Linked DNA regions of Homo sapiens. The protein of the gene in region 3 interacts with the protein of the main gene of each other region in a biochemical or structural test. Each region holds a gene or a part of one and is shown on either strand. Other genes may lie near its edges. The genes, in order: CDK6, DGCR8 and USP51.

Region 1 (7,135 bases), on a different chromosome or scaffold from region 3:
TAAAGGGCAAGTGGAAGAAAGAGCTTGTCTGTAGAAAGGTTCCAACTGTCTCTAACAGCAAGAAACATCTCTAGAAAAGCTTTGCAAGGGCTGAATTCCCAAAGGACCGGAAAGCAGGGGCAAAATTCCTGAGCCTGAGTTCTCTTTTCCCAGAGCCCAAGAAGGAGAAAATTAGGTAGTGGCATTTAATCTCCAGGACATAGGAAAGAAGAGAAAAGAGCTGTGGGAATACATTCACAATACAGAGACATGTCTCTAGAGGATTATGTGAGAGGAAGCCCTTTCCTCACAGCTACACTGATGGCTTAAAGCTGGGAAGAGGGTGGAGAGAAGGAGAACACCTTAGCCAAATGTGGGGGTGTGGGAGAATCTCACGTTGGAAGTCTTAATACATTTTGTCCTATAGAAATATGGTTAAAAAAAAGGTGTTTAAGTTCTATTATTGCTCTACTTCAGGAACAAGGTTGCCAGGTTGAGGGTTAATTAAAAAACTTTGTGTTAATAATATTGTTTCTGCAAGAAAATTTAGTTTAATTGCCAAATAGTTTACTTATAAAATGAGCTTTTGGAATCACAACTTAGTCAAGAGTTGGATACTATGGTAGATTGGATAACTTTTAGTACATATTCCCTCTTTTCTCTCCCCTCTCACCATAGGGGGAGCATTCTTTCCTCCATTCAAGTTGGCCTTAGGCATGGAACTTGCTTTGGCCAATGGAACATGGGCAGAGTGGCGGGTACTTCTTCCAAGTATGGACCTTCAGGGGCATTGCATATTTCTGCTTGCCCTTCTGGAGCATCGATACCTTCTATCATGAGAAAAACATGCCCCAGGGAGCTGCTGCCTCTCTGGCATGGGCCCCAGCATGAGACACATGGAGAAGACCTGTGCTTCACCCACGGGCAGAAGCAGATATCAAAGGCTGTTAATTCAGGAGGTAAAGCAGACACTCATTACTCACTGGGTTTCAGACATCAAGAACAGCCCAACAGGTACACTTTTCTACCTATTGTTCTGGCCTCCAAGTATAGGAAATTATGTATATGGTTGAGCATTAAGAGTCTCAGAGCACAGAAGTCCTTATTTTCAGTGAGGTATTTTATATGTCCCTGGCACACTAAATACTTATTAAATAAATCAGCAACTAGAAGAAGTATTGCTATATAGTTCTTTTGGAAAAACATCTCCCCAAAGTTGTGAATGTTTAAGAAAAGGCACGTTAAAATGACAAACAAATTACTTAAAGTAGCATGAAACTGTAAGAAAGGAAACATAATATTTACTTCTAAAGAAACATATGTCAAAGTGAATCGAGAGGCTTCTAAACCTGCATTGAAATAAACATTCAAAGATGGCAGATTTAAAAAAATGTGGATCAGAAAGACATTCCAGAATCAAAAGCCACCAGCTGCTACAAGTGTGAAAATGAAACCTCTGGAGGGACTGTTGCCTCCTGCTCCATGTGGCTGTGGCATGTGATGCCTATAGCAGCTACTGAACTGATATTTGTGCCCACCACCCAGTCTGGGTAGAGCAGGTGTCTCACTGGCACAGTGCAGACGAGCTTGACATCAGAAAAACTTACCAGAAGTAGGTCTTTGCCTAGTTCATCGATATCTGTTACAAACTTCTCAATTGGTTGGGCAGATTTTGAATGAAAAGCCTGCCTGGGAAGGGCAACATCTCTAGGCCAGTCTTCTTCTCCTGGGAGTCCAATCACGCTACAAAAGAACCACACATGGACATAAGCATTAGCTACTATGCAGAAGCTGTTTTCTCATCAATTTCCAGAGAAAGGCAAAATCTAAGGGGGAGACATGGGGGGCAGAGTCCCAGGAGACCTTCACTTTATCACTGGCAGGGTCTCTGTTTATCTCTGTCCTACTGCAATATGGTGGCCATGGGGGAGAGGGTAATCTCACAGAAGAATTGTAAAATTCAGTGGGAGGAGATAAGAGATTGCTCTGGTAGCAGACACTAAATGTAAGGGATGATGTAGAAATAGAAAATATATTACCAGGCAGTAAGCTCTGACTTAGTGACAAAGCAGGACTTATTGTATTCAGAGGAGACCCATACTGGTACATATCTTCCTTTATGTCCAAGAATGCTTTTTGTGTTTTGATCGAACACCCCAGTATTGACATGATTTTATGATGCTCATCCAACATGGTTTATTAACATATCAATTTGGTTGCATTTTTGGTTAAAGAGCAATTCCCTACATATTAAATATATACATTAGAATCAGAAGGAAAAATGAGGCTAAAACGTGCTAGTCCTGCATTATACAAACATGATTTTATAAAAGGAAGTCTGTGGTATTCCAAAGTGAGCAAACAGTAAATTAAAAGACTATTATTTATATTTCCCCTGAAAACCATTCTGGGATCAGAAATGTGGAAAGAACAGCAAGTGATAAGCACAGGCTTCGGAAATAGGCAGATTTGGGTTCAAATCCTGCACCTGCCACTTACTGGCAGGTAAGGACAAATTACTTAACATCTATGACCCTTAGTGTCTTTATGTATACAATGATAATAACTTACAGTTGTAATGAGGATCAGTTATACTTTATTTGAATTTATAGTAATATATAAATTTATAATTTAAAGTACAAAGCACAGCACCTGATATACATCACACACAGTCAATTATCAATCAATACACTGCCTACTATTATTATAATTAGAAAATGTTATTAATACAAGATGCATAGGAAATACATCACTACCACACTTAAAATATGAACTGCTTGTATCTATGTATAACTTAAGATTCTTTAAAAAATTAATGGGTCAATGGACTTACATAACTTATACATTGTATAGATATTATTTATAGTTTACATATAGGTCGTAAGTAGGTTTGAACAGAGAAAATCAGAGGATGCAGGGACTTCTTTCTCACACAGACTGTATAACTCTGAACCAAAAATAAAATCATAGTTTAGTGGACGGGGTACATAGCTATTCAAATACTGGAACAAATAATTTTAACTACAGTTAGAAATTGTGCTGGCCCACATTAGGGTCTTCTGCTTGGCCTCTACTTGTTGGGACTAAGGCCCAGGAAGAGGTGTTCTTATGAATGTACTTCCAGATTTCAGGAAGATGTGGTACAGGTCTCAAGATCTGTAGCACTTCATTTCCCCTTCCCTCACCTACACGGAGCCCAGGCCATAGACTTCAGCTGGGAAGATAACCCTGTCATCATGGCTTCTCTGCCTGGGTGTCTGGGGAAGACACTGTAATTCGGCCTCTATCAGGCATACTGAGAGAGCTACATTATTGAGGCAAAGACAGATTCATGGACATATTTACTAGAAGCAATAAATAGAAATGACAATGAGCAATATATAGATTTGTTCAATAGTACAGCCTACAATAGAAGTAAAAAGAAAAAAACCAAAAATACCACTATTAATTATGAAAAGAAATGCACGTGTAAGTGTCTGGATACAATGGGACAGGGCAGAGGAGGGAATGAAAAATGCTTGTTAGAGAGCTTTAAAAATTTCCTTTCATTCCTTTTTAGTTGTCAGGTCTATGTGTATCAATATTTTTGTGTATATTCACCAGTCAGCTAGAAATTGATTATATTAATAACTCCTAGAAATATTTAAAATCTTTTTTATTTGTGGCTTTGAATGTATCTACATCTAATTACATCTTGCAAGTATATGATCAACTGAATGCCAAAAGCCTTCAGAGGAACAGCACATCTCTGTTTGTATGTGTGTACATATACAAATAACTTTATATAATTTTATATAAAATTTTAAACAAACACATAACTATATATATAAAACTTTAAGTCTATCACCTCCTCTGATTCCTGTAATAATTTCCTAAGACATGTAAGTCAGGTGTTATTAGTCTCATTTTATAGATGGGGAAATTGAGAATGAGGAATAAAATGAACTGCCAAAGTCACAGATAGCAAGCTCAGTCACAGAGTCCAGAGTGAGTTCCGTTCTCTCTATTCCAATATTTTATTTCCATTTAGCTATGACATCATTCTTAAAAATGCTCTAAGATGTCACAGGCTAAAACTATTGTTTCACTTTTAATACTTGCTATTACTTGAAGGCTTAAATCTTCCTAAACACAGAAATGTTTTTCCCTTTAAGAGTATGTGAACATGGACCAGGTGGGGTGGCTGTAATCCCAGCAGTTTGGAAGGCCGAGGCAAGTGGACCACTTGACCCCAGGAGTTCAAGACCAGCCTGGGCAACATGGTGAAACTCCATCTCTATAAAAAATATAAAAATTAGCTGGTTGTGGTGCCCTGTGCCTGTAGTCCCAGCTACTTGGGAGGCTTAGATAGGAGGATTACTTGAGCTCGGAAGGCCAAGGCTTCAGTGAGCCAAGATCGCACCACTGTACTCCAGCCTGGACAACAGGGCAAGACCTTGTCTCCAAAGAAAAAAATAAAAAAGAGTATGTGAATATGGCTTTCCTTAAAAAAAATTTGGTTTCATGTCCAGAATGAACTTTTATGGCCCAAATATGTGTTGTGAAATTCTGATAGGTCCATTAAAAATGCTTGCACTTAATTCCACTATTTGGACTGCTGAATATAAGCCTTAAAAGTTGACATTTATATTGGCAAGCCCAACAGGGCACAAAATCTATAAATGGCAGTGATGGAGGAGACAGAAATATTTTTTCAAGTACTTCAGCAGTGACGCTAGGGTGCAGCATTGTCCCTTTTCTCTGGCAAGGTAATGCATTCAGAGGAAACAGAACATAATTTTGATGACACAATGCCAGAAACCACAAAGTAAAATCTAAAGGCACAAACCATAGAACTCTACAGCTTCTTTGCTGTTGGCAACCTACGATTGTCAGGACTTTGCCAAAAGCAGAACTGGCTTTTCTTTGGAAGCAGGTCAAACATGCCGGTCAAATGTTCCTTCTGGTCCATTTCACTGGCCTCATGTACTAAGGGGGCACTAACAATGTTAACAAGATTGCAGACATCAGTGCTGGAGGTAGACACAACTGTCAGGTAGTATAAATAAGGGAAAGAAGGTGATGGCTTTCAAGTCCTGGCAAGCTGACTTTAGTCAAGATTCTCTTTCCTTTTAACAGAAGGTCATCAGTATGTCTGCTTTCCCTAGTTTCCTCTTTATGATCACATGCACACAAAATATATTCAACAGTCATGGGGAAAAATAGATGGGAGTTCATCGAGTGATTAAATAACTTGCCATTCAGAAGCAGGGGTAACATGAAGGCTTTGTGTTGAATTTATCCACTGTACAGAGTGGTCAGTAGTAGGAGCAGTAGCATCACCTGCCCTGGACCCAGGAAGCCCCCAGGCATAAAAAACTAGCAAATGTTATTCAGGCCTTAAAGCTACTATGTTCTGACTCAGCAGTAGCACTGGCATTAACAGAAGTCTAGCTGCTTCTAGTCACTAAAAGAACAAAATCAGGTTCCAGTTTTATTAACTGTTTTAAGCAGTCACGCTTGAGTAGACAGTGCTGATATGAAAATCTGTTCTTTAGGGGTGGTTTTTTTTTTTTTTTCAGTCTTACAGACTTCGAATTTCATAAAAATCACTGGGATTCCTATAAAATGTCACAGACCAAAGATCAGGGCTATTTTTGGTCTAGAACTCCCACTTTTTTCCTACTCCACTCCAATTTGGATGGGCCTTTCAAACACAAAAAACCAAAAAAGGATGCCACACTGCATGCTTTGTCAGAAGAAGTGCCCCAGTTACATTCTAGAAACATGAATGCATACATGCATGAACATGCAGACATGAATGAAACTATGTAAATCATCAAGGAGCGATGTAACTGAAACCAAAGAATTTGAGCACAAGAAAGGATCTTATAGAGAATTTAAGTCAGAGTTTCATTTCTCAGATGAAGTTAAGGAAATAAAAGGTTAAATAATTAATGATGAACTCTAATAGTAACAGTAATAGATAACTTTTTAAAGTGCTTACTATGTGCCAGGCACTGTGTAAGCCCTTCACGAGGTGTTTTAAATGACTTTCTCAAAGTTGCAGAGTTATTTTGCCAAAGACTTAGGGTTCTCATTTTCTATTTTGGTGCTCCAAAGAAAAATGAGATGTGTAGCATACCATCCTTCGCCCAGGAAAACAAAACAAAACAACGCAGAACCAACCTGGGTGACCAAGGATACTCAGTGGGGACAGGAAGCTCACTGGACAAGGATGGGTACTTGGTCACCAGGCATCCCATCTCTGATGGTGGGTGCTTTTGAAATGACCACAAGCAGAAAATGTATTTGAACTAAAAGAACTGGAGCTCAGCCACACGAAGAAAGAGGAGCAGCAAAAAGATCCACACAAGCAACATACAAGCTTCCAGAGCAGAGCAGTTAGGGCTCTGCATAAAACGGCACTTCTACCATGTCTCCACTCACCACACAAATAGTAACACTGTCTGCAGCAGCTGCTTGAAGTAAGAAAGACAAGAGATAAACACATGATATGCATGTCAGAGGAAAGTCACTGTAAATGTTTTAATGCTATGGACACTGGTGTAAAATTATAATTATTACTTACTCCAAGATTTTTCCTAGTTGATCAACATCTGAACTTCCACGAAAAAGAGGCCTAAAAGAATAAAGATACATTTTAAATAAGAAATGTTCTCAGATTACATTTCAATCATATTTGCCATTATCATTGTTTCACAGGAAGCAAAATATTCTTTATGGGTTGGGAAGAAGTAAAAAAAATTGAGACATTTTTCCTTTGGTAAGTGAAGGTTTTCCCTGCATTTCATGTATGGGTTAGGATCTCTCATGAATACCTGGTGGTAGATGAATTCCATGTTTTACAATCACGGGCATTCTGTTTGCAGTCATTCTTACAACAGTGCTACCGTCAAATTCAGTTCCAGGTTTCAAAGATCTGCTTAACTTCGTGATAAGGTGGAACATACCACCATCCTAGTCTCGAACCATAAATAGGTGAGATTCTTTGATATTTCTCAGAGCACTTTTTCCATACTACTCTGCTATCAGAGTACTTCCTCATGGGTCTCTCTCCTTTCATTTGTCCTCAATGCTGCAGTGAACCACCTCTGGGTCTATTTTTCTAATTATACCACTTTTCTTCCTCCCAATATTATGGCAGCTAACCATT
Region 2 (7,135 bases), on a different chromosome or scaffold from region 3:
CTGCACAGGTGCCAGTCCACCACCAGGGCCAGCCTTTGAGCACACCCTGGTGCCTCAGACTCCGGCAGGAACACATTTCCATCGCACACCCACCCATAGGGGCCACCAGTCGAGAAGCAAGCTGGGCACCAGGCAGCTGCCTTTGACATCCAGAGAAACCGCTGTCACAGGCAACAGCTCTGGATCAAGAATGGGCTACACTGAAGGCCCTTGCTTCCTGTTTCAACAAGTCCACTTGCTAAAATGCATGATTCCAAATCTACCTTCTACTCTCACTGTGAAAGTCTTTCAAAATGCTAAAATATCACAAAAGCTTTAAAAATCAATGGGTGGACATATGGACTCGACTGCAAAAAATCTTTGTAAAAAACTGTTGCCGGAGGCCAGGAAAGGCAGAGAGGGCCTCAGTGTCCAAAGAGGCGCTTTTAGGGAATTAAGACTTCATCAGAAAAAGGGACCCTAGGAGGCCAGGGTAACTCCAGGAGGTGGCAGGACGTCATCCTTGCTGGCATCGTGTCCAGACTGGAGAGGGACCACCTTGATGGTTTGCCTCCAATCCCAGAAAGCTAGTTCTGATGCTAAAATTCTGTTTAAGCCAAAAAGGTTTAAAATATTCCTTTCTCTTCTACCTTTTCAAAGAAGGGGAAACACAGAGGGTGGGTGAGGGCAGGGCACCATGTGCACCTCCTGACCAGGTCCCTGTAGCAGCCCTGCAGGCGCCCTGGGCACATGGGCCACCTGGCATCACGGGCCAGCCACAGGACTCAGCCATCCCCTCTCATCTGTCATCCAAGCATCATGTGTCGTCAGTGCGTATTACATACTAAAATTCATGAAAGCCTTCATAAAAAGAGCCTGCAGCAGGTGCACAGAAGCAGGGTCCACCACTGTCCACAGTCACCAGCTGCCACTGGTGCAGTCGCTGAGTCCATCCATTCAGGCCTGGAGCTTTCCAGGGAGAGCCGCTGCTCCACATGTGTGCTGTGTGGCCATGGCTGTCCCTGTACACTAAAGCCTCCACCCTAAGGCCGGGCCCACAGGTTGGCCACAGGGAAGGAGCGTGGGTTGGAGGCCTGACACTGTGGTGCACGATGCATGACTGCTGGTCTCCTCAGAAGTGCGGCTGGCGGCCCCCGCGCCCTGGCCCGTGCCACCTCCCTCACACGTCCACGGTGCACAGGGGCTCACCGCCAGGCTGGGCGGACGCCACAATGGACATCTTGGGCTTCTTTCGAGTCTCCTCCTGAAAGAACAACAAAGGTCAGGGGTACCAGTGAGGTGGGCTTGGCAGAGGCTCGGGAAGACACAAGGTGGAGGGAGAGCCCAGCAGATCATGCCAGGAGGCCCTGGAGCCCCAACGGCACCAGTGCTTGTGATGCCAGGCTAGGAGGAGCAGGGAAGGCCTGGGGCAGGCCAGCCTGAGATTGCAGAGGCCCCCTGCATTGCCATCAGAGTACAACATGTGCAGCCTCCCTGGCAATCAGGACATGTACCAAGAAGTGAAGAATTTTGGGTGCAGTTACAGGGACAGGCCAGGCCTCCCCATTGGGTGTTCCTCCCTTGCCCAGCTTTTGCTTGCCCCAGGCCCAGCCAGGAGCACTATGTCCTGCACCTGCTGCCCTTGAGCCCCACAGCCCCTCTTCCGACCAGGGGCAAACCAGGCAGTCCCACTGGCTCCAGGAGGCCAAGCCCCACCCCAGGGAGCAGCAAGGGACCTGCTGGCCTGGGCGGCAGCAGATACCTCCTGGGGCTCTCACCCAGGCCAGGGGACTGCCACACTTAAGAAAGCTCCCACCCAGAAGGCCCAGGTGGGCAGGTCACGCCGTGGCCAGGCAGACGATGCCTGAAGACAGAAGACACCACTGCCAGCCTGACAGGCCCCTCTTTGAGTGGGGTTCCCAAGGTGGCTTTAGGAGGCTTCATCAGGACCAAGCCCTACAGATTCAACCCTGGCAGGTGCACTGACCTACCTCCAAACACCCAGGGAGGACATGGGACTCAGGTGGCCCACCAAGACTGTGACCTTCATGGTCCACCAACAGGCTGGCCTGCCAGCTCTCTAACAACAGAACCAAAACTGAAGTGATTTATAAAACTATCACACATGTCGAAGCTCAAAGAAAAGCCTGTATCTGATTTTGGAAGGAGGATCCAAGCATTTCCAAGGTGTCAGCTCAGGCACGGGTCCTGGGGTCTGCTGTCCCTCCACAGGTGCCACAGGAATGGCCGTGGCCCGGCAGCCCTCCCGCTAGGGTGGCACTCACCCTTTCCTCAGCTAGCCTCTTCATCTCCTCTTGGAGCTTGCTGAGGATGTGCAGGTTGGGCTTGTTCTTCTTGGCATACTGCTGCAGCTCAATCACACTCTTGTCCGATGTCTCCTGGGAAGTATAGCACCTCACGCTCAGGACTGCAGGCTGTAGCTCTACGGCCTGCCCGCTGCCCAGCAGCTGTGTGCCTGGGACCCTGAAGGCAGGCGCGCCCAGGGTCTGGCAGACACGAAACAGCCAGGAGCTGTGGCAACATAACTGCATGCTGACTGGCCCGCCTCAGTGATGCCAGGCCCACTGACAGCAGCAGAGAGCGAGGGGCAGTCCATAGCTGCCAGGCCTTTCTGCCCACACCACGCCACTTATATGGCCTCCTGCCATGGGCAGAGTAGGGAGGTGAGGTGCTCGTGGTGCCCAGAGTCCTCATCAAGGAGTGAAACCAGAGTGTGGCCATAGCCAGTAAGAACAGCACGCTGCAGCCCAGCCCATCAGCCTCAGGCACTGAGCTCTCTGCACACTCCATGAATGCAGAGCAGCATCAGGCTGGCCTCAGCCCCTTCCCGTCTTAGGCCAGCCCCAAGGGTGCTGTGGTTCCTCGGGATGCCAGAGCTCCCCCAAGCTGTGGCTGTGCCTGGCTGGGACCTTTCCCCCTCCTGCTCAGGGAAGTTTCCCACCCCCGGGCCAGAGTGGGGCTTGCCTTCTCTCCCTCCGTCACAGCCAAGGACCATGCACAGCAAGGGCAGAAGCAAGTGCTACCTACATTTCAACTTGCTTCCCAAAAATCTCTCTCAAGTTCCTTAACATGCCCTGGTGGCCCGTGTGAGCCCCCTCACCCTCCCTTATCATGTCCAGAGTAAAGGCCTCTTCGGGGACAGTGCCGAGGCCTCGGTCTCAGGGACCTAAAGGCAGGCCCTGCTCTTGGCAGCTGGCTTGGGCAGAGGGCCCACCCACCACACAGTCCTAGGGCTGCCCCACCTGCAGGCCTAACCCCTCCACAACTACTTCCCCTTCCAATGACCAGGAGGGCAAGAACCCAGAGAGTTTCTGTAATCATTTGAGGAAAATGATTACACTCACCTCCCCATGTTACCCTCCACCCCTCAGGAGTGGGCACTGGCTTACACTGCAGGATGTTGGCCACAACAGCAGAAACAAGACAGATGGTACACATATGCTCTTCTGTTAGAGATGGACCGGCACTGGTACCAGGGAGAGCTACCCTGACACACTCGCTCTCCTTCAAGCAGGGAGAGCTGGCCCTGGCTCCTGAGCCTTTGCACACCTCCGAGCCGGGCGCACCTTCAGCATCTCCTGCCTGGCCCTGCCTTGCACTTTGGCCATCTCCCTACAAGCCACATAGCTGGGCCCAGCCTGCGTTCCCAATCACCCACACTTCACTGACCATGCCCAGCAGGCTGGGATAGGAGATGTAGCTGGGACGACCCCACCCCTGCCCACAAAGCCACACAAGTGGCCCAGGAGAGAGGCAGCTGTGAGCAACAGCAGAGCTGCCCAGCTCTGCCCCCTCTGAGCACAGAGCCTCAGGAATACGCTCCAGGGTGGCAGCACAGGCTGCCCTGGGACCTGCTGATGGCCAGTTACCTGCTTGACCATCTTGCTGCTCTCACGGCCATACATGCGCAGTAAAGACCCCCAGTTCTTGACATGTGGGTGCAGCAGCTGAAGGATCTTCTGTGAGGCTAACTGCTTTCCAACTCTCTTGTTCTTACCTACACAGAGAAAGAGCAAGCATGGAGAGGGGGTCACAAACACCCAGTGCTCATGGGGCCCCCTGCCGCTCCCAGCCCTCCTGACCCACACCCCGAGGGCCAGCCAGGGCACATTCTACAGGAATAGGCAGCACTCTGCCACTGCTCTGGGCACCTGAGTCTCACAGTACCCAGCTGCCACCTTGAGAGAGTGGCCCTCAGAGTCTAGGAGCTGAGGACACTACCACTCAAAGCCACGCAGCCGAGAGCCTCCCTCCCGCCAAGACGCACACCTCCAGAAACAGGGAGCAGCAGGATTCTGCTGGCTGTTCGAGGAGGAGGGCCTTTCCTCCTGCCACAGGGACAAGGGCTGGACGGAGACAGGGGTGACAGCGGGGGAAAGGGAAAAGACAGGGAAAGTGCAGGCAGGACGGCTGCCAGTCCGCCTTAGGCTGAACGTGTGGTGGCCAGCACACACAGCTGGGCTCAGGGACAATGCCAGGGCAACAGCTGAGACCAAGCCACAGAGGCGCAGGGCCACACCAGGGGCCGCCCGCCCAGCGGCCACCAGGCAGCAGAGAAGGAGTCCTTACACCACCCGCGCACTGTGTGCTTGCCACACGCCATGACGTATTCACTCTTCTGGTTTTTCCCAGGAACCACTTCAAACTTGATAGACGTGTCACCCATCCCATGGTTTCTTTAAGAGAAAACAGACAACAGATGGCGTCCCCTGAGCAGAGCAGCCAGCTGCCTCTGAGGAGGCCTGCTCTGGGAAGCCCTTAGGAAATGACCAAGCCTCTCCCCAGACTGCATCTCAGCCAGAGGAGGGAATTCTCCACACGCCCGATTCAGGCCTGTGGGACTGACTGGTGGCCAGGGCCAAGGGGCTGCTGTGTACCCAGGGAAACCTGGCCATGCCTCTGCCTTGGGACAAACAGCCACAAGAATATGAGACGCCAGAGAGGAGCTCCCCCGACCTGACTCATGGGGGGAGGCACCCCCCTACCCTACCTTTTAAGGCACTCGTGGAGGATCTGATATGGAGACAACAGCCCAGCCTTGCTGGTCAGCTCGTAGACCCGCGAGTCCTCGATGCTGATGTGGTTAAAATACTACAACACAAAGCAGAGGCTTGTGAGTCCCCACCAGGCCCACCGGCCTCTTCATGGCTGGGCCTGCGGTTGGCTTTCCCCAGATGCTTAATGTCTGTTCTTGTGAGCTCGCCTAGCACTTCATACCTCAACTCTGCAAGGAACCCACCGGGTACAAGACATGCTCCGTACCTCACCGTCCAGTTGCCCATCTCCAGAGCCCACAGCACCCTTCCACCCTGAGCACTGTGGGATGGAGTCTGGTATCCTAAGAGGGCCCCAGGTACATGGCTGGCTGGCCAGGCCCACCTTATTTGGATCTGATTCTGATCCATAAGGCACCCTTCTCAGAACTCTATAAAGATAAAGCACCTTTGCAGAGAGGCTTTACTATTGCCACAACTGAGACTACAGGAGAGGGAAAGTCAGCCAGACCCAAAAGCTGGCCTTAAAAGGCCCAGCTCCCCAAAGGCCAAAGCCCCACACAGCTACACAGAGCCCAGCCCCAGGTGGCCAGCAGAGGCCCAGCCCAGCAAGGCTTCCAACAGTGTCATCACCCTGGCTCTGCAGCCAACCCAAGAACACACAGGAAGGACAAGAGAGGCAGACAGGGAAACAAGAGGTGATGGGGAGATTCCACACAGTGAGGCATAGGGAAGCTGCAGCAGGCTGAGGTGCAGAGACATTGCCCACTGTGCCTTCCCAGACTAGGACTTTGGCTGAAGCTGAGAGTGCCTCCTGGGTGAAAGGAAGATGCTATCCAGCCCACTCTGGAGCATGGACAACCTCCCTGGTGGAGCTCCTGTGACAACATACCACAAAGTCAGTGGCTTAGAACAAGAGGTTTATTCTCTCACCATTCTGAAGTCTGAAATCAAGGCCTCAGCAGGGCCATCCTCTTTCAGAAGCCTCTAGGGAGCCTCTGCCAGCTCCTGGTGGCCCCGGCATCCCTTGGCTATGGCAGCATTGCTCCGATTTTCATATGGACTACTAGCCCTGCCCCTCCTCCCTCTTCTTAGAGAAACACCAGACACACTGGATCACACCACTGCTCTGCTTCAGTGTGATCTCATGTTAACCTAATTCTATCTGCAATCATCCTCTTTCCAAAAAAGACCACACTTTGAAGCACTGGAGATTACCCATCAGCCACACCCTCACAGTGCTTCCCCCACTGGCCCTGTTCTGGAGGGGTCTGCAGGGACCTGGAGCCTGCCTGGCCCATGGGCAGCGAGGAAACCTAGAATCAAATGATTCACACGCCTCGCTGTGCAGGCTCCACAGTGTGCCAAGCCCGCTCCACAGGGACACTGGCCCTACAGACAGGGCAGTGGGCAGCTCCTCTGCCCTCGCCGCTCCAGCAAGCAGCAAGGCCAACTCGCTGCAACTGCATAGAAGAGGAAGGCACTAGCCCTGAGGTTGGCAAGCGAAAAATCCTCGAGGTATGGCTTGGCTACTGTCTTCAAATAGGTCCCCAGAAGACACTGCTCCTCTCAAGTGCACAAATCAACATGGGTCTTTTTCCAGGGAAGGTCACTCACCAAGACATCAGGCCCTGGAACCTCAAGGGTTTGTCAACCAGCCAACCAATTAGCAACGTCCAGTGCTGTCGGCCCACAAGAACCCACATACCCCACGGCTTCGGGACTGGCCCTGGAGAAGCTGAGGCAGTGGCTGACACACACACAGCTAGAGAGCACGCTCAGAAGTTTCTGGCAAAAGACCGACGCCAGCCGGGCGCGGTGGCTCACGCCTGTAATCCCAGCACTTTGGGAGGCCGAGGCGGGTGGATCACGAGGTCAGGAGATCGAGACCATCCTGGCTAACAAGGTGAAACCCCGTCTCTACTAAAAATACAAAAAAAAATTAGCCGGGCGCGGTGGCAGGCGCCTGTAGTCCCAGCTACTCGGGAGGCTGAGGCAGGAGAATGGCGTGAACCCGGGAAGCAGAGCTTGCAGTGAGCCAAGATTGCGCCACTGCAGTCCGCAGTCCGGCCTGGGCGACAGAGCGAGACTCCGTCTCAAAAAAAAAAAAAAAAAAGACCGACACCAGGATGCCCTGCACC
Region 3 (7,288 bases):
GTGTTAACACATTTATGATTTTGAAATAATGCTCTTTGTTTTTGTATCTCTCCTTCTTCATAAATAGGGCATACCAAAGTTTTGTGAGAAAAAAGAAAGAGAAAAGAGCACACGATATGCACTTAATAAATGGTCTGTAATTCTTTGGCCCACTAAGCAGGCAAAGTGCTCAGGGCATCGTAAAGCAAGCCTAGTCAGAGAGAGGTCTGTGCATGTGTGTGGGGAAAAGAGCTGCGCCTTTATTTTCACCCACCTCTAACTTACAGTGATCATGTCCTAAAACTATGAGCCTAGGCATGAAACTCCATTGATAGTAGTACTACATGTGACTGTGTCGCCAACAAAAATTTCGGTATCACATTACACTTCTTTCACATTTCTCAGAGTATCACCTATGCTCAGCACTACTTTGAAACTATGGTAGTTATTATACCCATCTTGTGATAGTTATGTAAGGTTTAATTAAAAAAAAAATTTCCTCACATCACAATATCTTTCTAAAAGTACAAAATGCCATCTCCATACAATGCATTTTTATAATCCCGTGTGTTTAGTTATATATATTTATGTTAAAAATATCATTGTCTTAAGGGATCCACCGGCTGTACCAGGATATCAAAGGGATCCAAGGCACCAAAAGGCTGAGGATCCCTACTGTGATGGTTAATATTAGGTGTCAACTTGATTGGACTGAATTGAAGGACGCCTAGATAGCTGATAAAGTATTGTTTCTGGGTGCATCTGTGAGGGTGTTGTCAGAGGAGACTGACGTTTGAGTCCGTGGACCGGGAGAGGAAGACTCATCCTCAATGTGGATGGGCACCATCCAATTGGCTGCCCGCACGGGTAAGGCAGGGCAGATGGAAGTAGGTGGGACAAGCTGGCTTGCTGAGTCTTCTGGCTTTCATCCTTCTCCCGTGCGGGATGCTTCCTTCTGTTCCTCCTGCCCTCGGACATCAGACTCCAGGTTCTTTAGCCTTTGGGCTCTTGGACTTACACCAGTGGTTTGCAGGCGGGCTCTTGGGCCTCGGGACACAGACTGAAGACTACACTGTTGGCTTCCCTACGTTTGAGGCTTTTGGACTCAGACTGAGTCACTACTGGCTGCTTTCTTCCCCAGCTTGCAGACGGCCTATCATGGGACTTCGCCTTGTGATCATTTGAGCCAATTCTCCCTGATAAACTCCTTTTCATATGTATACATATACGTGTGTGTGTGTGTGTGTGTGTGTGTGTGTGTGTGTGTGTGTGTGTAGGATACATATATCCTATTAGTTCTGTCCCTCTGGAGAACCCCAACTAAAACACCTACTCTAGGGGATGTTTTGAAATGAACATCCAAGGGCAAAGGGAAGGCAATGGACTGACAGGCCGCATGTTTTCACATATGTAATCTCATGTGCACGGACAATACAGAGGCTTCTGTGGTTGAAGTGCTGGAGCCCACAAAAGCAGAAAATGAAGCTGAGGTTGGACCTACTCAGGGGTGGGGGTGGGGGGGAGTTGGAGTAAGTTGGGCAGTTTCCATTTTAACCAAGAGACCACAGGGAGTCACCATGGGTCTGTGGGCAGGAGAGGGCACACTCCAGTGGTGTCTGAGGCTGTTGCTTCAGAAGGTTGGAGGCAGACCAGCTACGAGCTGGAGCACAGGAAGAAAAGGAACAGAAGAGGGGATCCATCCAGTGAGGGGACAGGGGCAGGAGGCTGGGCAGACAAATGTGGGCCCCAAAGGACTGGAACCCAGTCCATGGCACCCTCCCTGCAGCCCTAGTCAGGGGCAGGTAATGGCTCCAAGTCTGCCCTTTGGGATGCTGGCCTCTGAGAAGCGAGGTCATTGAGGGGAAGAGGCCCAGATTGGGAGAAAGAAGGCTGTGTGAGGCTTCAGGGGTCCAGTTTTCAAGGTACTGAGCGAGCCACCAGGAGCACAGAGGCAGGCTTTTTCCCAATCCTGCTCTTTCATACACCACCCCACTCCCAAAGGACCCTGCCACACCTGCCACAGCTAGAATCTGTAAGAGACGCCAACATAACACAGGCCTGGGAAACCAGCTCCATCAGACATGGCTCCTGCTACCAAGGCCAGAGTGCCTTGACCTGGGCTTCTTTACACATTATCCCACAGTAGTGGTTCTCAAAGTACCATCTCCACGCCAGCAGCATCCGCATCAGCTGGTACAGCGTTAGAAACCTAAATTATTGGGCCTCACCCAACCCACTGAACTGGGAACTTTGGGAGTGGGGTCTAGCAGTCTGTTAAGTCCACCAGAAGGTTAGACGCAGCTTCATTTTGGAGGAACCAGTGAACTCCAGAAAGGCCTAAACCATGCAGACCCATTCATTTTCATTTTGACAGTAGTGACCCATCACGCTGTCCTGAGGTTTTCCTACAGGACAATTGTCAATGAAGAAATCGTTTGTTTGGTCACGATAGCGTGTGGGCTGATTTAAAGGCGTGTCTAGCTCAATAACAACTGTTTTCAGAAACTTTTTGAAGCACTGTAACAATCCCACCTCCCAAATATTAAGTTGTTGATTACGAGTGGTTTTTAGGCCTTTATTAACTAACATTAATCTTCACAGCACATTCCTATGCATTTCCCGATGTGGACCTCAGGCAGGGACTCTGGCTTACTTGCTTTTGTGCCCAGTTTTGTTTGGCTGTATATTCATAGTGCCCAGTGCAGCAGTAGGTGCTCTTTACATATCTGCTGAATAAACCAATCTAGGTAGGGCTGGCATTCTCATGATTCTGATTTTGCACAGGAGAAAGCGAAGGCTCAGAAGACAGAAGTATTTATAAATTGTGCCCTGCCTCCCTGCCTGCATAAAGGGTGCAGGGCTGTCTCAGAGCAGCTGGGATCCAAGCCACAGGTGGCACAGCTAGCAAATGACTGACTCAGCATTTCCTTCTAGGGCTGCTAACCCAGAGTGGAGCAACTCTTTGCTTAGCTGTGGCTGAGAAAATGCCCTTCCCTAGGGGAGAAAAAGCACGTTTTCCTGCACAAGCCAGTCTATAATTCCAAAGCACTTTCCCTCCGGGTGCTAGTATGTGACTGAGATATGGTCGAATCTAAACCAAGTCACAAAATCAGTGATATCCATTGTGCGGAGGTATCCACTAGATGCCACTGCCAAGTTAAGAGAGCTGAATCCTAATCGTGAGGTTTTGAGGGGAGGTGTGTGACTTTCTCAGAGAGATTAAATGTAGCATTAAACATCCGCTGTAATAAACCGTAATTTTCTTGGGATTGGACCGGAAGGGCAACAAGCCCTGGAGATAGCTTTCCTCCGGGTTGTCGCCTTGGATGCCGGATCTGTCAAAGAAAAGGAAAAGTCTCCTGGCGTATGGACTTCAGGACACAAACAGTTGTATCTTGTGCTTCTCCCAGCACAATCTAGCGCTATAATGCACCTATGGCATCTTTGTTGAATACATGCTCCTGTATATGGACTGCCTAGGATGGATGATCGGGTGAACTGAGCCATAACTTTGAGAGAGCTTTGAAAGAGAAAGGCATTCTCTTCTCCTCTACTCTGCATCAGGAGTTGTTCTCTATGCTGATTTTCAGGAGCGGACTGAAAAAAGAGGTGTGACAGATAAAGCTCGCCAAAAAGGTCTTTTACTTGATATATACTATGACTCAGTGTTCACATTGGGCTAGGGTTATTATTTCAATTTCTCTTTAAAAATTGACACAACTAAGGCTCAGAGAAGTTAAGTGTTTTATCCGAGGTCACACAGCAAGCATGTGCCTGGGCTCAGGTCTCTCTGAGCCTGAGCCCTTGCTTATGCTTCCTCCCCTGCACATTCTGGGATAATCTCTCTCTCTTTCTCTCTCTCTCTCTCCCTCCCTCCCTCCGTCAACTCCCAGAGACCAGGCTCTGACAGGATCCTGAGGGATTCCTGCCAGAGGGTTGCCATCTCTGGAAGCCCCCACCCCCACGCCGGGTGAATCTTTTTTTCTGTGGAGTGCGGGCCTGGAGCTAGGTGAGGCCTGAGCCTCCATTTCAGGGGCTTTCTGTAGAATCTGTTGCTGCTGTTGCCTCCAGCAGAGTCTGTTTCAGGAAGAGGTTTGCCTGCCTGCGCGGGACAGCGGTGCCATTCATCACTGCAGGAGGGCAGAATCCGGGGTTGGGGGCCGCACGTCGAGAGGGGAGGGGCCAGGGGGCGGCCCCCTTGTGACCAGCCCTGAGGAGAGGTCAGGAGAGAAGGCTGGCTGAGGAGCGCCTGGACAGCAGCAGTTGCTGACGTTCTATATCACGCGCCTGGGGCCCAAGGTAACCCAGACCTTTAAACAAACTGCCGGGCTGGGGGTGTTGCGGGGGCAGGAGAGGGAAAAGGGAGCGGAGACTTCGGGGGTCGCGCGAGGATAGTGGTGGCCATAGAGGTGGCAAATGCGTGAAGGGAGGGAGTAGTAATCCGAATTCTAGGAGAAATCATAGGAATTGAAGTCGCAGAAGCAAGAAAAGGGGTGTGAGAGCACAAGCGCGAAAAAGCGTGAGAGGGCGCAAGAGCTGGGTGGACCGAAAGTGCGCTGAGGGGCAACGGCTTAGAGTGGAACACACCGGGTCACAGAAGTATAGGTTAGGTAGAAACAGAGGGACACTTTCTTCCTGTGAGTTCATTTTCCAAAAGTGCGTCCTTTCAGCCATTTTGGAGAGAAAATGTTGACCCAAGTGTTTTTTAGGATACAGGGAAAGAACGTCAGAGGAAGCTGCACCAAAGCGAGGCTGCGCAGGGCGCAAAAAAGCAGTCAGAGGGTGGCGCCTTTTTTAAAGAAGTTTCCATCCTTTCTGTCCTAAAGCTCAGGCCGTTCCCCACCCCCACCGCTCGCTAGCCTTCTGTTCCCAGTCCCCTGGCATGATCTGATCGCCTTTGAAGCAGGTAACCGCCTCGGTCTCCCCATCAGCTCCAGGGGCCTCTCAGTTGAGTGGGTGGAGCCGACAGAAGCCGCGGGCTGAGCTCAAGGGCCGATGGGAGGGGTCCTGGGGGCGCTAACTGCGCACCGCGGCCATGACGCTGGGCAGATCATTCACAGAAGTCTCTGTCTCCTTTCATCTACAGTCGCAGCTGTTTTCCAGACGCCTTGCTCCTCAGGTCGGGGAGTGATCTGATGGCCCAGGTTCGAGAAACTTCTTTGCCCTCCGGCTCTGGGGTCCGCTGGATCTCCGGAGGTGGGGGAGGAGCCTCTCCTGAGGAGGCGGTTGAGAAGGCGGGGAAAATGGAGGAGGCGGCGGCGGGGGCTACGAAGGCGTCTTCGAGACGTGAAGCCGAGGAGATGAAGCTGGAGCCATTACAAGAGCGTGAGCCCGCGCCGGAGGAGAACTTGACGTGGAGCAGCAGCGGCGGCGACGAGAAGGTGCTCCCTTCAATCCCCCTTCGCTGTCACAGCAGCTCCTCGCCCGTTTGCCCGCGCCGCAAGCCCCGCCCTCGGCCCCAGCCCCGGGCCCGCTCCCGCAGCCAGCCTGGGCTCTCGGCCCCACCCCCGCCTCCAGCCCGGCCCCCGCCCCCGCCGCCACCCCCGCCCCCACCCGCACCGCGGCCCAGGGCCTGGCGTGGATCCCGGCGCAGATCCCGGCCTGGGTCCAGGCCTCAGACACGGAGAAGCTGCTCTGGTGACCTAGACGGGTCGGGGGATCCTGGCGGCTTAGGGGACTGGTTGCTGGAGGTCGAGTTTGGTCAGGGTCCCACAGGCTGCTCTCATGTGGAGAGCTTTAAAGTAGGTAAGAACTGGCAGAAGAACCTGAGGTTGATCTACCAGCGTTTCGTTTGGAGTGGGACCCCAGAGACTAGGAAACGTAAAGCAAAGTCATGCATCTGTCACGTATGTAGTACCCATATGAACAGACTCCACTCTTGTCTCTCCTGTGTCTTTTTTGGCTGCTTCACTGAGAAACATATTCACAAACATGCAGAAACAAAGCAGCACCATTTAGCTGTAGACCTTTATCATGGGGTCATATATTGCTTCATGTGTAAGGATTATGTATATGACAAAGACATAGAACAGATTGCCAAAGAAACAAAAGAAAAAATTTTGAGATTATTAACTTCCACCTCAACAGATGTTTCTCATCAACAGTTTATGACATCAGGGTTTGAAGACAAGCAATCAACCTGTGAGACAAAGGAACAGGAGCCAAAATTGGTGAAACCCAAGAAAAAGAGAAGAAAAAAGTCAGTCTATACTGTAGGCCTGAGAGGGCTAATCAATCTTGGGAACACTTGTTTTATGAATTGTATTGTCCAGGCACTTACCCATATTCCTCTACTGAAAGATTTCTTCCTCTCTGACAAGCACAAATGTATAATGACAAGCCCCAGCTTGTGTCTGGTCTGTGAAATGTCTTCGCTTTTTCATGCTATGTACTCTGGGAGCCGAACTCCTCACATTCCCTATAAGTTACTGCATCTGATATGGATCCATGCAGAACATTTAGCAGGGTACAGGCAGCAGGATGCCCATGAGTTCCTTATTGCAATATTAGACGTGCTACATAGACACAGCAAAGATGATAGTGGTGGGCAGGAGGCCAATAACCCCAACTGCTGTAACTGCATCATAGACCAAATCTTTACAGGTGGCCTGCAATCAGATGTCACATGTCAAGCCTGCCATAGTGTTTCTACCACCATAGACCCATGCTGGGACATCAGTTTGGACTTGCCTGGCTCTTGTGCCACATTCGATTCCCAGAACCCAGAGAGGGCTGACAGCACAGTGAGCAGGGATGACCACATACCAGGAATCCCCTCACTTACAGACTGTCTACAGTGGTTTACAAGGCCAGAGCACCTAGGAAGCAGTGCCAAAATCAAATGCAATAGTTGCCAAAGCTACCAGGAGTCTACTAAACAGCTCACAATGAAAAAATTACCCATTGTGGCTTGTTTTCATCTCAAGCGGTTTGAGCATGTAGGCAAACAGAGGCGAAAGATTAATACCTTTATCTCCTTTCCCTTGGAGCTGGACATGACTCCGTTTTTGGCCTCTACTAAAGAGAGCAGAATGAAAGAAGGCCAGCCACCAACAGATTGTGTGCCCAATGAGAATAAGTATTCCTTGTTTGCAGTGATTAATCACCATGGAACTTTGGAAAGTGGCCACTATACCAGCTTCATCCGGCAACAAAAGGACCAGTGGTTCAGCTGTGATGATGCCATCATCACCAAGGCTACCATTGAGGACTTACTCTACAGTGAAGGGTATTTACTGTTCTATCACAAACAGGGTCTAGAGAAAGACTAGTCTTACCAGACCACTTACTGAAAAAAAAGTAAATGATT

The links.
Region 1: the proteins of USP51 (region 3) and CDK6 form a complex in vitro, tested with the Homo sapiens proteins (one study listed by BioGRID).
Region 2: the proteins of USP51 (region 3) and DGCR8 form a complex in vitro, tested with the Homo sapiens proteins (one study listed by BioGRID).

What each region holds. Positions count from the first base shown.
Region 1 is NC_000007.14:92,616,486-92,623,620, forward strand, and holds part of CDK6 (cyclin-dependent kinase 6), read right to left. Parts: intron 6,602-7,135; coding exon 6,551-6,601; intron 1,723-6,550; coding exon 1,587-1,722; intron 1-1,586. UniProt on the Homo sapiens protein: Serine/threonine-protein kinase involved in the control of the cell cycle and differentiation; promotes G1/S transition. Phosphorylates pRB/RB1 and NPM1.
Region 2 is NC_000022.11:20,104,133-20,111,267, reverse strand, and holds part of DGCR8 (microprocessor complex subunit DGCR8), read right to left. Parts: intron 5,092-7,135; coding exon 4,991-5,091; intron 4,677-4,990; coding exon 4,570-4,676; intron 3,998-4,569; coding exon 3,870-3,997; intron 2,379-3,869; coding exon 2,265-2,378; intron 1,244-2,264; coding exon 1,160-1,243; 3' UTR 1-1,159.
Region 3 is NC_000023.11:55,486,766-55,494,053, reverse strand, and holds the start of USP51 (ubiquitin carboxyl-terminal hydrolase 51), read left to right. Parts: upstream 1-4,205; 5' UTR 4,206-4,278; exon of another isoform or gene 4,279-4,688; 5' UTR 4,689-4,885; intron 4,886-5,007; exon of another isoform or gene 5,008-5,065; 5' UTR 5,066-5,114; coding exon 5,115-7,250; 3' UTR 7,251-7,288.